Regions from separate parts of the Homo sapiens genome. Here region 2 is linked to region 1. The links come from fine-mapping of genetic effects on gene expression. Tissue or cell type: whole blood. Region 1 holds a variant in brackets; the other region holds the start of a gene. All regions are shown on one strand. Distances are from middle to middle.

The links. PIP is the estimated chance that this variant, and not a neighbour inherited with it, causes the effect.
Region 2: it holds the start of KCNIP2-AS1, and the variant in region 1 is fine-mapped to the expression of KCNIP2-AS1 in whole blood (INTERVAL, PIP 0.98).

What each region holds. Positions count from the first base shown.
Region 1 is chr10:101,746,783-101,754,887 of GRCh38, forward strand. The region is part of intron 2 of LOC105378458 (a long non-coding RNA gene); the gene reads right to left. Among named protein-coding and RNA genes, the nearest start is that of LINC03046, 21 kb to the left of the region's middle. The variant A/C (reference allele first, on the strand shown) is at 3,854.
Region 2 is chr10:101,814,097-101,822,201 of GRCh38, forward strand. KCNIP2-AS1 (KCNIP2 antisense RNA 1) reads left to right here and starts at 4,972. Exons shown (of 3, transcript NR_045118.1): 1 at 4,972-5,152. OGA (O-GlcNAcase) reads right to left here and starts at 4,348. Exons shown (of 16, transcript NM_012215.5): 1 at 3,728-4,348. The coding sequence starts at 3,926. RefSeq lists enhancers at 3,881-4,456, 4,258-4,377 and silencers at 3,908-3,967, 4,048-4,107.

The DNA.
Region 1 (8,105 bases):
TCTGTATGTGCAGAATAGTTTATATATCATATGTGAGCAAGAAAAAGTATTTTATGTTTGTATTTATAAATATCATTATGTGTCACTTAATAAGGGGGATATGTTCTGAGAAATGCATCATTAGTGATTTCCTTGTTGTGTGAACATCACAGAGTGTGCTTCCACAAACGTAGGTGGTACAGCCTCCTACATACATAGCCTATATGGTAGAGCCTATTGCTCCTAGGCTACAAACCTATACAGCATGTGACTGTACTGGATACTGTAGGCAGCTGTAACACAATGACAAATATGTGTGTATCTAAATATATGGAAACAGAAAGGGTATACAGTAAAAAATACAGTATTATAGTCTTATGGGACCACCATCCGATATGCAGCTGTCGTTGACTGAACATCATATGACTTTACATGGAATTGTTCTTAGAACCTGATAACTGGGTCTTCTCCAGGGTAGGAAATGCTGTGTGTAGAGACAGAGGTTGCAGGGAGATTGCGAGGGGTACAATATTCTGTTGTACCCTTTGAAGTACCATGTAAACATATGATCTATTTAAGCAAAATTTTTAAAATATGAAAGCATGGCTGGGCGCGGTGGCTCATGCCTGTAATCCCAGCACTTTGGGAGGCCAAGGCGGGTGGATCACTTGAAGTCAGAAGTTCGAAACCAGCCTGGCCAACATAGTGAAACCTCATCTCTACTAAAAATACAAAAATTAACTGGGCGTGGTGGTGCATGCCTGTAATCCCAGCTACTCATGAGGCCGAGGCAGGAGAATCACTTGAACCCAGGAGGTGGAGATTGCAATGGGCTGAGATCACACCACTGCACTCCGGCTTGGGCAATAAAAGTGAAACTCCATCTCAAAAAATATATATATAAAATATATATGTATGTAATATATAATATATATTATATAATATATGTAATATATTATATATTATATAAATATATACTATATTATATATAATAATATAGTATATAATATATAAAATATATATTATATATCATGTATGATATATATGATATACATATACATATATACATATACATATACATATACATGATATACAATATACATATCACATAATATACATTATATATAATATGTATGCAATATGTAATATGTATATATTATATATGTATATAATACGTTATGTGATATGTATATAATATATTATATGATATGTATATAATATACAATATGTATATATGTATTATATATACAATATGTGTATATGTATTATATATACAATATGTATATAATATATATATGAAAGCATTTTTGCTTTCCAGTAACAGAAGTTTACCACATCCATTGTTGGTTTACTCTTCAGTTTTGCCTTCCAGCACCTTGTTCTTTGGTCCAAAGCCAGAGTGGTGAAGGAAAGGGTGACAGACTTGCATTCCCTCCCCCACTGCAGGACTTAGAACCTTTCTGTGACCCAGGCCTCCCAGCTGGAAAACGAGGAGAGTGGCATTTGCCACATTCCCCACAGGGGTAGCATTGAGAACTGGCTATCTGCTGGTAAAGGATTTCCGGATCTGTGAATAAAAGGGAATATATTAACACAAAATACTCTTGCTTTTTAACCCCACATAGTTCTAAGGAAATCTAATATAAAGGCTTGGGATCCACTTACAGTTGCTGTACTAGAGGTGAATGTTAATTAGTGACATTGACAATCGTCATTTTCTCTGTAAACCTACTTGGTGACTGGAAGCTGCAGGAATCTTGCTATATGAGCCTTCTGTCTTTGAACAACAAAGTGTCAGTCTGACCGTCCTGAAACAGACAAGAAAGCTGCCCACCTCAATTACAGGCCTCAGCTGAGAATCAGGGTTTGGTGTCCACACAGTCTCTCTAGATTGCCTGGCTGGCTGGGTCCAGTGACTGTGTCTTATCTTTCAGCGAGGCTCCCTGCTTCCTCTCTCCAGTGCCCTCTTCCAGGGTGGGATGCACAGAAGGCATTTAATAAATGATGACTGAGCCTGTGGCTGGCTACCTGCCTGCTTTCAGGAGTGGCCCCGCTTTATAGATGGGGAAACAGAGGCACACAGAAGTGCAGTACTTTGCTTGAGTTCCTTGTTGGAATCCCTGGTTCAGGCAGGAGTCTCATTTCAACCCCTAATGTTCATCTCTTCTATTCTCTGAACAGAGAGTGCTTGAGAAGTTCCAGCATTTCCATCTTCAAAGTCAAGAAATAGAAGAAGCAGTTGTAAAACAAGACCTGAACCTAGACAATCTGGGTAGATGACAAAGCCACCGTCCTTCCCCAGGCCTCAGTGTCCCCATCTATAAAATAATGGTTTGGACAGGATGATCTCTCAGGTCCCTTTACGTTTCCTATGGGCTGTGTATACCGCCCTGCGTTCACTAGCCAATTGAGGCCATTCTTCTTGTTATTTCTTTACCTCCTTGAGTTTCTCAGGAGTTTCAAGGGGGCGCTGTGAAACTGGTTACTGGGCAGCCAGCAGGCCTTTCCTTGGAGCTGCCTGGCTGCTTGGTTTCCCTGCTGGTAACCAAGCCCTTGTCTGTCTTTCCAGCAACCCAGCCCTTTTCTTATTGTTGCTGTCTGTTTCCATTTGTTCCTTTTATTCTCCAGGTTTTCCTTGACTCTGATGTTTTTCCCCCTGCTGCACAACAAGCCCTTCTGATCTCTGTGAAAGGCAAACCCGTGTCATTCTTCCAAATCATCATTGTATGACATGTTTTTATATCAGCCGGACAAAGGAGCTATTTGATCAGGGGGTATGGTGTGTGATTGTAAGAAATTCAGCTAGTCGGTGGCAACCATTGTTCCCCAAGCGGCTCCCTGACCCCATTCTGTTCCTGGAAAAACTCCCTGAGAGTGGCCTCTATTCATGGAGTAACACCAGTCCCCAGCCGCGCTCCAGGAGCATGCTCAATTCCTAGCAGTGTCACCGATAGCTGCCCGAAGCCACCCTTTAACTCTTTCATCAGCATTAAGTTTCCAACCCCACAGCTGTTATCACGGCCATGAGCTCAGGGGGTTAGAGATACAGGCATGCTCTCTGCTCTCCCTCTTATCTTGGAGAAATTCAACCTTCCTTTGAAATGGTCATTTGGAAATTACCCGTCTGCTGCTTTCAGCGCAGCAGGCCTGGCTAGCACGCCTGTCCTCCTCGGTTTTCCCCTGAGGACAGCCTTCCAGCACTGCCAACTCCCAGGCCCTGCTGCTCGGTGGCCTCCCTCCTGGTATGGAATCTAGTGGCACCTCAAAACCATTTCTGATTGCCTGAGGTAGAAGTGTGAGGCCCCTCACCCTAGCCTCAGAGTCCTTGCCAGATCGTTCTGGAAATGAGGAAATACTTCCACACACTAATGAATGTTACTTAGTCAGGCTTCTTTCTTTTTTGCAATACACACTGGGCCCCTATATGTGTAAGGCCTTGTGTCAGGTATTGTAGGACAGACAGAATTGTATAAAAATTGGCCCTTGGCCCTAGGAACTCCATCCATTAGAAGAAATGAAACAAGTAGGCCGGGCATGGTGGCTCACGCCTGTAATCCCAGCACTTTGGGAGGCAGAGGCGGGCGGATCATGAGGTCAGGAGATCGAGACCACCCTGGCTAACACAGTGAAACCCCGCCTCTACTAAAAATACAAAAAATTAGCTGGGCGTGGTGGCGGGCGCCTGTAGTCGCAGCTACTCGGGAGGCTGAGGCAGGAGAATGGCTTGAACCCGGGAGGCGGAGCTTGCAGTGAGCCGAGATCGCGCCACTGCACTCCAGCCTGGGCGACAGAGCGAGACTCCGTCTCAAAAACAAACAAAAAAAAGAAATGAAACAAGTAGACATGAATCTGTAGAAACATCCATAACATTTTA[A/C]TACTGAGTGATTCTTTGAAGTGTCTTAACACCTAATGATGGCATTGGGATTTTTCTCTTTGTCCCTGTGTTCTTTTTTTTTTTTTTTTTTTTTTGAGATGGAGTTTCGCTCTTGTTGCCCAGGCTAGAGTGCAATGGCGCGATCTTGGCTCACTGCAACCTCCGCCTCCTGGGTTCAAGCGATTCTCCTACCTCAGCCTCCCGAGTAGCTGGGCTTACAGGCATGCACCACCACGCCCAGCTAATTTTTTTGCATTTTTAGTAGAGACAGGGTTTCTCCATGTTGGTCAGGCTGGTCTCGAACTCCCGACTTCAGGTGATCCACCCACCTTGGCCTCCCAAAGTGCTAGGATTACAAGCGTGAGCCACCACACCCAGCCTCCTGTGTTCATTTTACAGAGACTAGAAAAAGTAAAGGGACCTAAATCACTCAAAGCCAGTAGCTGAGCAAAGGCTCAAATGTAGAGTCTCTGATTCATTTTTCTCCTGGTTCATTCTATTAATTCATTGACTGCTCCTTTGCTCCAAGAAGCTGGCAGTAGATTAGACTGTTGTCATTTGTCTGTAACTACTATCAGGAAGACAAGACCTCAAAGCTAATACAAAATTCCAACACAAGAGTCTAGAATCCTAAATCAGGCTCCTTGGCCTCATCCCCACACCAGTGTTTCTGTGCCTTGAGTCAACAGAATGGCCTCTCCAGTAAGAGAATCTCAGCCTGGCTTCCCTATCTCAATTCCTCCTTGGCTCCAGGGAAACACCCACAATATAACAGATAAAATATTAAGGTCTATACACAGAGTGGCTGAAAAATTTATTGTCCTGTGTACTGATTCATGCTACAACATGGATGAACCTTGAAAACATTATGCTGAGTGAAAGAAGCCTGACTCAAAAGGCTGCATGTTGTATAATTTTATTTGTATGTCTAGAATAAGTAAATCCATAAAGACAGAAAATAGCAGTTGCCAGGGGCTGGGGAGCCAGGGAATAGGGAGTGACTACTAATGGATACAGGGTTTCTTGTAGGGTAAAGAAAATGTTCTGGCCCGGCGTGGCGGCTCACGCCTGTCATCCTAGCACCTTGGGAGGCTGAGATGAGAGGATCGCTTGAGCTCAGGAGTTCAAGATCAACCTGGACAACATAGTGAGACCTCGACTCTCCTAAAAATTTAAAAAAAAAAAAAAATTAGCTGGGCATGGTGGCTTGCGCCTGTAGTCCCAGCTACTCAGGAGGCCAAGGCGGGAGGATCATTTGAGCCTGGGAGGTAGAGACTGCAGTGAGCCATGATCACGCCACTGTACTCTCACCTGGGCAACAGAGTAACCCCGTCTCAAAAATAAATAAATAAATAAATAAATAAATAAATAAATAAATGAAAATGTTCTGGAATTAAATAATACTGTTGATTGTAAAAGTTTCTCAGTATACTAAAAGTATGAATTATGTACTTTAAAGGGGTAAATTTTGTGGTATGTGAATTATATCTCAACAACAAAAATGGAAAAGATGGAGGAAAAAAATACCACCTAAAAAAAAGTTTGTCATCCAAACCAGGACTGAGGCACTGTTTTTTTTTGAGACAGGGTCTCACTCTGCTCCCTAGGCTGGAGTACAGTGACCCAAACATGGCGCACTGCAGCCTCGACCTCTGAGACTCAGGCAGTCCTCCCACTTTGACACTTTTGAAGTATTAATAATCACCCTGGGAAAATATGTATAAACCATATGGTGACTCTAGCTAAGGACAATGAATGAGAGCTCTGTGTGCAATCTCTGTGTGCCACCTGTCTTTACATCTTCTCTAAGGAGCTTAAGCAATAGCCTACCCAGCCAAGAATTCTGTGGCCACTGGTGGCCCTAGGGACCACGTGTATTGGTACTCTCAGCTCTCCTTGGCTCTTCTGCTCCCAAATTCCCTATGTCATTTGGGATTCTACTTCCCAAATAGGACCTCCTTTTTTGTAATGAGCTTTAAAGATTTACTCTACTCTGACATACATTGGACCTCTGCCTAATCATCGGATTTCCATTCCTTCCTTCCTTCCTTCCTTCCTTCATTCTTTCATTCTTCCATCAGTCAATTATGTAGTCTCTACTGGTACCAGGCAGTCGGGCAGTGTAGCAGCTGAGGAATACAGATGGATAAGTTACGTTTTCTTCCCTCAAGAAATTCACTTTCTATTAAGAAGATCGACATTTTAAATAGAAGGCAGTGAAGACACTTCCGAGCTAGAAGTATGTATTGGGTACAAGAAGGCCCAAAAAAGGGGGAGGTCGGCTTTTCCTGAAGGTGGGACTTTCCCCATGCCCACCTCTGGACATTCCAGAGAGATTGATAGGACCTAATTTGGCATCCCACAAGAGGAGAGGAGAATGCTTTCTCTGTCTTTGGTTGCCTCTCCCATTCCCATGCTCCTCTCCCATTTGGTGGCTGCTCTTAAGTGGCCTCTCACTCCCCCCAGCACACTGGGACGCTGCCACTGACTGGCATCTCTGGAGCCTCTTTCCTGGAGGCTCAGATTCCCATCCTCTGGGTGTTGTCTGGCCCTTTTCTTCCTAAGTGCATTGTGTTCTTGCCCATTTTCCTGCCCACTTACAAAGGCTTATACGGTTAAGCCCTTTGCCCAAGGTCACAGCTGGTTAGTAACAAAAGCCAGGCTAGAACCTGGGTTCAACCCTCAAAGTGAAGTCCTTCTGAGCTTCCAATGAAGGGTTTTATTTTCCTAACAAACTGCCTTGTAACCTGAAGAGGTGAACCCCAGCCAATCTCAGACCCACTTTTTTTTTTTTTTTTTGCTAATTTAGCTGCACCTTGGCCATTCCAGGGGTGGCAGAGTTCATAAGCAGTAAGTAAATGATTAGTAACCCCCCCACCCCACCAAGGGTGCAGGTCAAGATCTCAGCACAAAGATCAGGTTGGAACTTCTGATCTCTCCCAGCCTGTCTGGGTAATCCCAGTCCCCCTGCCATACAGTTTGGGACCCATCTGACAATGGAGTTTCCAAGACTGGGCAGAAGGAGCAATGGGATTTGGTTCTCCCATGATATAGAAGAAAAAGTTCACACTTCGATAATTCAGAGTCAGAAAAGCTTAGGGGTTAAAAACCTGGATTTGAAAGGCCAACAGATCTGGATTTATTTATTTAGAGACAAGGTCTCGCTCTGTCATCCAGTGGACTCAAGTGATCCTCTCACCTGAGTCTCCCAAGTAGCTGGGACTACAGGTGCACACCACCTCTCCCAGGTAATTTTTTATTTTTTGTAGAGACGGGGTCTCACTTTGTTGCCCAGAGTGGTCTTGAACTCCTGGCCTCAAGTGATTCTCCCACCTTGGCCTCCCAAAATGCTGGGACTGCAAGTGTGAGCCACTGTGCCTGGCCCAGATCTGGATTTAAATCCTAGCTGTAAAACTTTGGAAGGAAGAAATTCCTTTGCTTTTCTGAACCTCAGTCTCCCCAATGTAAAATGAAGATAATGTATTCAGGGGAAAAAACCCTCATGAAGGTAATAACTACCTCATAGTACTATTATGAGGATGAGATGAGATGAAGTGTACCAAGGCTTAGAACAACTCTAGTAGACAGTAAGCACTTAATAAATGGTATGTAGCTTTTGTTGTTGTTATCTTTTCTCAAACTATCTCTAATCTTAGAAGGGTCCAGAACTCTGGGGACTGGTTGGCCAAGTTTCCCCAGATAATGTTTGCAGCCCTCTTATTTGCCCCATAATGGCAACTTCATTCATTAATTTACCAAAATTTATAAAGCACCTACTATATTCCAAGGCTACTTGAAACATTATAGTTACAAATAAGAAGTTACAACTCACTGTTGTAAATAGAATAATGTATAAGCCCAGAGGATTGCCTGGGAGACATAATAGAGGGTAGAAAAGTTTAGGTCTCGAAGGGTATGTAGGAGTTCACTAGGCAGAGGGAGCAGCACATGAAAAAACAAATGCATGGAAAAGCATGTAGCATTTGGGAAATGTTAAAAAGTTCTGCATCACTAGAACCTTCCACAAAAGAGGAAGGAAGCCAAGCACTGTGGCTCACACCTGTAATTCCAGCTAGTTGAGAGATCAGACGGGAGCATCACTGGAGTCCAGGAGTTCTGGGCTCCTGCAATATAGCTGCCTCTGTCTCAGAAAAAAAAAAAAAAAAAAAAAAAGTGGTGTCGGGCATGGTGGCTCAGGCCTGTAATCCCAGCACTTTGGGAGGCTGAGACAGGCGGATCACGAAGTCAGGAG
Region 2 (8,105 bases), 67 kb after region 1:
GCAGGTAGATCACTTGAGGTCAGGAGTTCCAGACCCAGCCTGGCCAACATGGTGAAACCATGTCTCTACTAAAAATACAAAAATTAGCCAGGTATGGTGGCAAATGCCTGTAATCCCAGCTATTTGGGAGGCTGAGAAACAACAATCACTTGAACCTGGGAGACGGACTTGCAGTGAGCCGAGACTGCGTCACTGCACTACAGCCTGGGCTACAGAGCAAGACTCCATCTCAAACAACAACAACAAAAGGGTGAGGGGAGATAAACAGGTAAAGCAATTAAAAACAAATCAGAGATAGGATTAGGAAAGAATCTGACTTAATTTTATGATCGTGCTCCTCTTTTTTAAAAAAAGTTCCTGGCCAGGACTGGAATTCCAGTTACTTGGGAGGCTAGGGCAGGAGAACTGCTTGAATCCAGGAGGCGGAGGCTGCGGTGAGCCAAGATCCGCGCCATTGCATTCCAGCCTAGGTGACAGAGCAAAACTCTCTCTCTCAAAAAAAGTTCCACATACAATGATATAATCAAAGGGACCAAAAAATGCCTGAAACCACATTCCCAAGAAATTCAACAGCCTAACTGGCCCAAACAACAAACTCTCACGCAATCTTAATTACAGAGCAAAGATCTGAACAAATGAAAATTCAAGAATATTACTTCTGGTCCTTAAACGGAAAGGAATAAACAAAGAAAACTCAAGAATGTCCCCAGAGTATCCTCTAAGAGGACAAAACACTAGTTATGCACACACTGCAGAAAACAAACTCGCAGACCGATAACCTAAATGGTTGAATAAGCATCAAACTGGTATCTGGAACTCCCTAGTGTGCTCATCACAGCTCAAACCACACACTTTACATCTTGTCTAACCTTTACTTTCCACTTGTCTCAGTCTAATCATCAGTAAGAGATAAGGACAGCCTCTCAAGAGTACCATGAAGAAGGTTAATAAAAGCATTCTGAACACAAAATGTTCTACATAAACCCACACAATCTACATAAGAGACTAGTCTAAAACAAATTTCTGCAATGTATTTTAGCTCCAATCTCTAGGCAGAATGACTCCTCTGCACCACAAAAAGGACAATGACAGACCAAATTAAAATTCATTACATACCAATGTATAACTGTAGCACTTTCATCTGGACAATCTAATGTTAGCCTCTCACAAGTGATACAAAATATTCTTTTTTTTTTTTCTCAGGCGGAATCTCACTCTGTCGCCCAGGCTGGAGTGCAGTGGCACTATCTCGGCTCAATGCAATCTACGCCTCCAACTCCCGGGTTCAAGCGATTCTCCTGTCTCAGCCTCCCGAGTAGTTGGGATTACAGGAGCCCGCCACCACGCCCGGCTAATTTTTTCTATTTTTAGTAGAGACAGGGTTTCGCCATGTTGGCCAGGCTAGTATCGATCTCCTGACCTCGTGATCCGCCCGCCTCGGCCTCCCAAAGTGCTGGGATTACAGGCGTGAGCCACCGCGCCCGGCCAATATAAAATATTCTTGATCAGGCAGACCTATACAAGTCTTTAGCATCCCTACGGCACTTAGCATTATCATTTTTTTTTTAAGGAGTAGGCATTAAACATCCTTTCAGAGTTGCTCCAATATAAAAAAAGACTTTTCAAATGTCTAGCTTAATTAAACATTTTAATCTTTAGAAACCCTACCTTGGCTCTTTTGAGAGTCAGGTTCATGGTTTCGGTTGACTGGCACCACAAAGAGGAAGCAATGCTGTTAATGTAAGTTAAAAACCAAGAGAGTTTTGTGATGGAAAGAAAACAAAAAAGAAATCCTAGCAGTAACTATAGTATTTCTATGCTCATTCATTTTACGGCTGGTGCCAACCAAGAGGTATCAAAAAGAGAGAAAAAAAAAAAAAAAAAAAAAAAAAAAGCCAGGCGCGGTAGTTCACGCCTGTAATCTTAGCACTTTGGAAGACCGAGGCGGGCGGACTGCCTGAGCTCCGTAGGTGGAAACCTGCCTGGGCAACACGGTGAAACCCGTTTCTACTAAAATACAAAAAATTAGCCGGGCCCGTGTCTGCAGTCCCAGCTACTTGGGAGGGTGAGGGAGGAGAATTGCTCGAACCCGGGAGGCGGAGGTTGCAGTGAGCCGCGATCACGCCACTGCACTCCAGCCTGGGCGACAGAGCGAGACTCCGTCTCCCAAAACAAAAACAACAAAACACACAAAAAATCAGTGCTGGCTCAGGTGCTCAGTCACTAAGAAAATATACAAGGGCACGGGAGGGAGGAGGAATAAACGAGAGAATGGCAGACAACTCTGTTCTTTAAATAGGAAGAATCGCCTTTTAATGCTATTCTAAACAAACGAATTTAAACCAAATGAGTTTTCTCCTTTTATAACTGAAGGTATAATGGACTGGCAAGTTTCCTTAGACTCATTCCAGTCTAGCTCCGAAATTTCCCAGCACTCTCTCATCCCCACTCCAAGATCTTTGATAACAAAAACCAGATTCTTTTTCTAAAATCTCCCTGCACTCAAGCCAATAAATACAACGATATAAGTCACACAATGCAATCATTTTTGATGAATACTATATAGCAGTTTTCCATTCTGTAATCCCCCAAATTCTGCAAGACAGTTAACTTCGCTGAACTCTTTCATGCCTTACTGTAGCAGCAAAGTAGCCTGTTATGGTCTGTACCATAACCACCACCCATTTTTCGAAAGAATACTCTAATTTATATGGTGAAAAAAAACAGAAAAGCTGATGTTCTCAACGTCGAGAGCAATCCTTTTTCCATACCTTTTTGGTTTTTTAAATATATATATTTTTTACCCTTATCCACGCCATTACATACGAGAGAGATATAAAACAGACATCTAGGAAACTCTGAATCGGCCAAAATACTTCAGAAAATTCAAATACATGCTGTAACTGCGGAAAGACTAATAATGTAACCGATTCGTGCCTCTACAGAGCTGCAAGGTGGACTATCTGTCCATTCTCATCCAGAAACTGAAACAAGCATCTGGTAATTTTCCCTCACTACCAAAAAGTCCATCGTTCTTTTCGACTGTAAATGGGAAAAAAGGCGAGAAGGGCATTTTTAAAGCCGCTTCTGCGGTCACTAAATTCCAATTACGCATCTCAGATACTTCGAGAATCTGTGATTAAAGCCAAAGTTTCATCCCTCGAGAGCAAAGTACAGTAGCTGGGAAAGAGGGCAATTTTCTAAGTTGCAAATGAATCTTTGCGGGGGTGGGGGGAAGCAACAAAAATATTCTAAGCCAAGTGGAACTTGAAATACTATAGGCCAAACGTGCTTCTCTTCACTCCAGAAGTACAAGCACGTCAGTGTGGGCCGATTTTCCACAAAGGGTGGTGACAGAAGCACTACACATATTTTTTCACTGGAACCAGACAACCCTAGGGAATAAGATCCCAAGGTACAAAGAAGTAGAACTCAGAGGCTAACAGAACACCAGGCTCTTAACCACCGCCTCCTTAGGAGGTGGCCTGGCTCCAAGCCCAAGACGGGTGGGGTCAGACTTGTGAGTGGCCAGGGGGGAATTCGACGCCGTCTTAAGACGTGCAAGGAGATTCGCCCAACATCTCGTCTCTCCCCTCGCTTTAGGAGGGCCACATTTCAGACCCAGAGGCTTTCCGGCCTTTTAGAGTCTCCAAAATCCCCGCCACCACCCTCCTCCCGAGGACAGAACGTGTTAGTGCCAAAACGGGGAGGGAAGGAGGGCGCTCACCTTCCACCACACCGCAGAGGAACCGCCGAGCCCCTCCTGCAGCCCCGGCCACCGCCGCTCCCCCAGCCCCGGCGGGGTTGTCTTCTCCGGGTGCCGGAGCTGCCGGCGGCTCCAGCGATGCCCCCGCAGAGGCGGCAGGGTTGGAGCTGAGCTCGCTCTCCCGCTCCTCCAACGTCGCTTGACTCTCCTTCTGCACCATCCTCCTGCCCCCGGCCGCTGCCACCTCTGCGGGTCCTCCTCGACCTCTGTCCGTTGGGGCACCGGCCCGGAGCCCTGGAGAGGGCTTCAGCTCCAAGTGTGCGCCCCTCCGGCTCCTTCCCCTCCCCCTCTGCCCTTCCCCCTCCCTCTCCGCAGGGACCCGAATGCCCGGATGAGAAGGGCGGCGGCACCGGCGCGAGCCCTTTGTCAGCCGCAGCCTCGGCTTTAAGCTGGGGCGCCAGAAGCCTAAGCGGAGAGCGAGGCTGTGACCTCTCGTTCCCTGGAAGAAGACGGCCAAGGGTCCTGTCCTCGTTCTCTGCCTCTGCTGCCCTCCCGATAATCTTAGGTCTTCCGCTGTTTCCCCTCCAAGCCCCGAGCTCTCCCTCTGCTGCTGCCTCCACCGCCCGCTTCCTGTTTATCCGCACTGCGCTTGCGCTGCAGACCGGCTCAGACCGGTCCCCTCCGCCCGGCTCCCCCGCCTTCTTTGGGGCTAGCCTATTAAGCTTCTTTAGGTAGGGGGAAATAGAACAGGAGACGCGAAAAGCAGAAGGTAATGAAGGCAGTGGAATGTACCATTTCTGCTTGCCACCCTCCGAAACAAGCCTGGCACCCTGGGACGGACGGACCATTACCCGCCCCGAAGGAGGGGAGTATGGGAGGAGGCTGCCGCCGGTTGGGGCAATAGGGAGAAGGGGGGAAGGTGAAAAGGAGAGGTGTTTATTCTCTCAGTGCGCAGGCGCGGAGCCGCGGCCTCTCGTTCTTAAAGAGATAGGAAAGAACTGACCTACTTTCTATGGAGATTCTTGTAATAGGTGGGCTCATTACATCTGCCTAACCCAGGCTTGGTTCGGTAAAGACACCATTCCAAGGAGCTCAGCTCACCCCTCTGCCTTGAATCATTTTCCCCTAATCCCATTTAAAATGTAATCATTCGTTCATTCCTTCATTCAGTAGACATCTATAGAGCTTGCCTCGTGCTGGGCTCTAGAACACTATGAGCTCACAGTACGGTGGTGGAGACAAGCCACCACACACGCAGTTCCCACAAGGTGTCCCCAAGAACTTCGGAGCTCAGAACAGGTGATACTCACTCCTCCTTTGGGGAGAGGCCGTGGGCATGGCTTCACTTTTCAGCTGGATTATAAAGGATGTGAAGTTAGCCTGACTGAGCAGAAGGGGAGGGAAGACAGCACTCCAGGAAAGTGGAACGAACAACAGAGTCCAAAGGTAGGGAGGCATGAAAAGCCTGCCTTGTTTGGGAATGGGGAGCGCGCGGTGTGTGCAGTGGGGCATGAGATCCCTTCGGCCTCGGCATGGGCATCGCTTCCTTGGGAAGCCTTCCCTGAGCCCTAGATGGGTTTGGGTCTCCTTGCTGTATGTTCTCAGAGCTCTCTTGTAGACCTACCCTAATGCACTTTACATTTATGATGCTTGAGAAATCTATCTCAACCTGTGAGGTATAAACATGAAATGATGATTAAGACTTAGTAATGTCCATCTTACACTTCAGTCTGATATTTACCTTCTTTAGCCGTAGCCCAACTTGTAGTTTCAGGGACTTTCATGGTCCCTCTTCTTTTCAGTCCTGGATTGTTGAGATGGGGGTTAGGAGCAAACTTTTTTTTTTTTTTTGAGACAGAGTTTCACTCTGTCGCCCAGGCTGGAGCGCAGGAGCGCAGTGGCGCAATCTCGGCTCACTGCAGCCTTCACCTCCTGGGCTCAGGCTATTCTCCTGCCTCAACCTCTCGAGTAGCTGAGACTACAGGCACCCGCCACCACACCCGGCTAATTTTGTGTTTTTAATAGAGACGGGGTTTCGCCACGTTGACTAGGCTAGTCTTGAACTCCTGACCTCAGGTGATCCACCTGCCTCGGCCTCCCAAAGTGCTGGGATTACAGGTGTGAGCCACCGCGCCCGGCCGGACAAGCATTTTCTTAAGGGACCTCCTGTGCTGAGAGTTAGGGGCCATAGCAGCTTTACTGGATATTGTGGTCCGTTGGGGTTGAGAACACAATTTTTTTTTTTTTTTTTTTTTTGTAAGAGAAGAGGTCTCATTTTGCCACGCAGGCTAGTGCAATCATAGCTTAAGTATCGAATTCCTGGGCTCTCAAGGGATCTTCCCGCCTTAGCCATCCCGAGTAGCTGGGACTATAGGCGAGTGCCCGCCACCACACTCTTTTAATTTGTTCATTTTTGGTAGAGACGGGGGTCTCAACATCTTGCCCAAGCTGGTCTCAAACTCTTGGGCTCAGGTGATCCTCCAGTCTCAGCCTCCCAAAGTGCTGGGATTACAGACACGTGCCACCTCACCTGGCCGAAAAGAACTTTTATCTGAGGAATGAGAGTCCTTTTAAATTATCAGGCCCAGATGGCTGGGCGCAGTGTTGGTGTTTGCAACCAGCCTGGGCAATATTGCCAGACCCAGTCTTTATAAAAAAATAAAAATAGGCCGGGCGTGGTGGCTCACACCTGTAATCCCAGCACTTTGGGAGGCCGAGGCAGATGGATCACCTGAGGTCGGGAGTTCGAGACCAGCCTGACCAACATGGAGAAACCCCGTTTCTACTAAAAATACAAAATTAGCTGGGCATGGTGGCAGATGCCTGTAATCCCAGCTACTCGGGAGGCTGAGGCAGGAGAATCACTTGAACCCGGGTTGCGTGAGCCGAGATCGTGCCATTGCACTCCAACCTGGGCAACAAAAGCTAAACTCCATCTCAAAAAAAAAACAAAAAAAAAAAAAAAAAAAAAAAGCCAGGCGTAGTGGTGTGCACCTGTAGTGCTAGGATCTCACCACTGCACTCCAGCCTGAGCCACAGAACAAGACCCTGCCTCTAAAAAAAAAAAAATTAAAAAATAAATAAATCTTTAAAAATTAAAAATAAATAAATAGGCCCAGCGAGGCATTAAAATGACAGAATCAGCCGGGCTCAGTGGCTCACGCCTGTAATCCCAGCACTTTGAGAGGCCAAGGCGGGCAGAAAGTCAGGAGTTCAAGAATAGCCTGGCCATCATGTTGAAACTCCGTCTCTACTAAAACTACAAACAATAGCTGGGCATGGTGGTGCGCGCCTGTAATCCCAGCTATTTGGGAGGCTGAGGCAGGAGAATCACTTGAACCTGGGAGGCAGAGGTTGCAGTGAGCCAAGATCGTGCCACTGCCCTCCAGCCAGGGCAACAGAGTGAGACTCAGTCTCAAAAAAAAAAAAAAAGAAAAGAAAATGACAGAATCACATCCTATGCCTCCCTCCTTTGAGCTATGTATTCATCTCTTGACACTGCTTGCTCTTGCCACAAGTAGCTATAAATTAACCTAATAATGTTGTACTGGACATTCTAACACACACCCTATAGTTTAACAATGTATAGCCAATCAATAGCTTATGTTATTTTAATGTAAACTGTTGGTAAATAACTCAGGAACTGCCTCTTCTTTCCCTATAAAAATCCACTTGTAACTGCTGCTAATCAGAGTGTCTATTTAGGGCAACTTGAATCTATGCTCTTTCGTTGCAATCCTCAAGCTTATAATAAACTCTCTACTTGTATTCATTTTGCCTCAGCTTCTTCCTTATAGGTTGACAGGAGATTTGGGGGCTGTCATTCTGGCTGATGTCCTTAGTCTCATGACATTTTCCTCTTTGCCTTAATCACTGCCAGCAAGTCAGCAGCCACAATTTCTCCTACTTTCCATAGTCCAGTCTCATAGGGAAGGTTTGCCCCATTTCTGTGTCCCTCAAATTTGAAGAGTGGTTCTTGCCACATAACTGCTATACACTTTCTCACCATACCACACCTCTCTCCACCCACCCCCAACACCTACAACAGTAACAGTGCTTAGTAGACCTATGATGAATATTTGCGGAATGAATGAGATAGGGCCCTGCCCTCACAGATTTTACATTCTGTTTGGAGAACCAGACAATAACAAATTCAGTACACACATAGGAACTCACAGTTTGTGGTAAGGGCTATTAAGGGAAGAAACCTGCCAACTGCATCAAGGAGGAGCTACTTCAGATGGACAAATAGGAAGGAGTAATTTAGGTGAGTAGCAATAGTGGCTTGGGCTAGGAAACAGCATCAGAGAGAGAGAGGTGGTGTACCTTTGGTGGTAGAATTGGTGATTGATTAAATGGGGGTGGAGGGAGAATGAAGGAGAGGAAGAAATGGAGACTT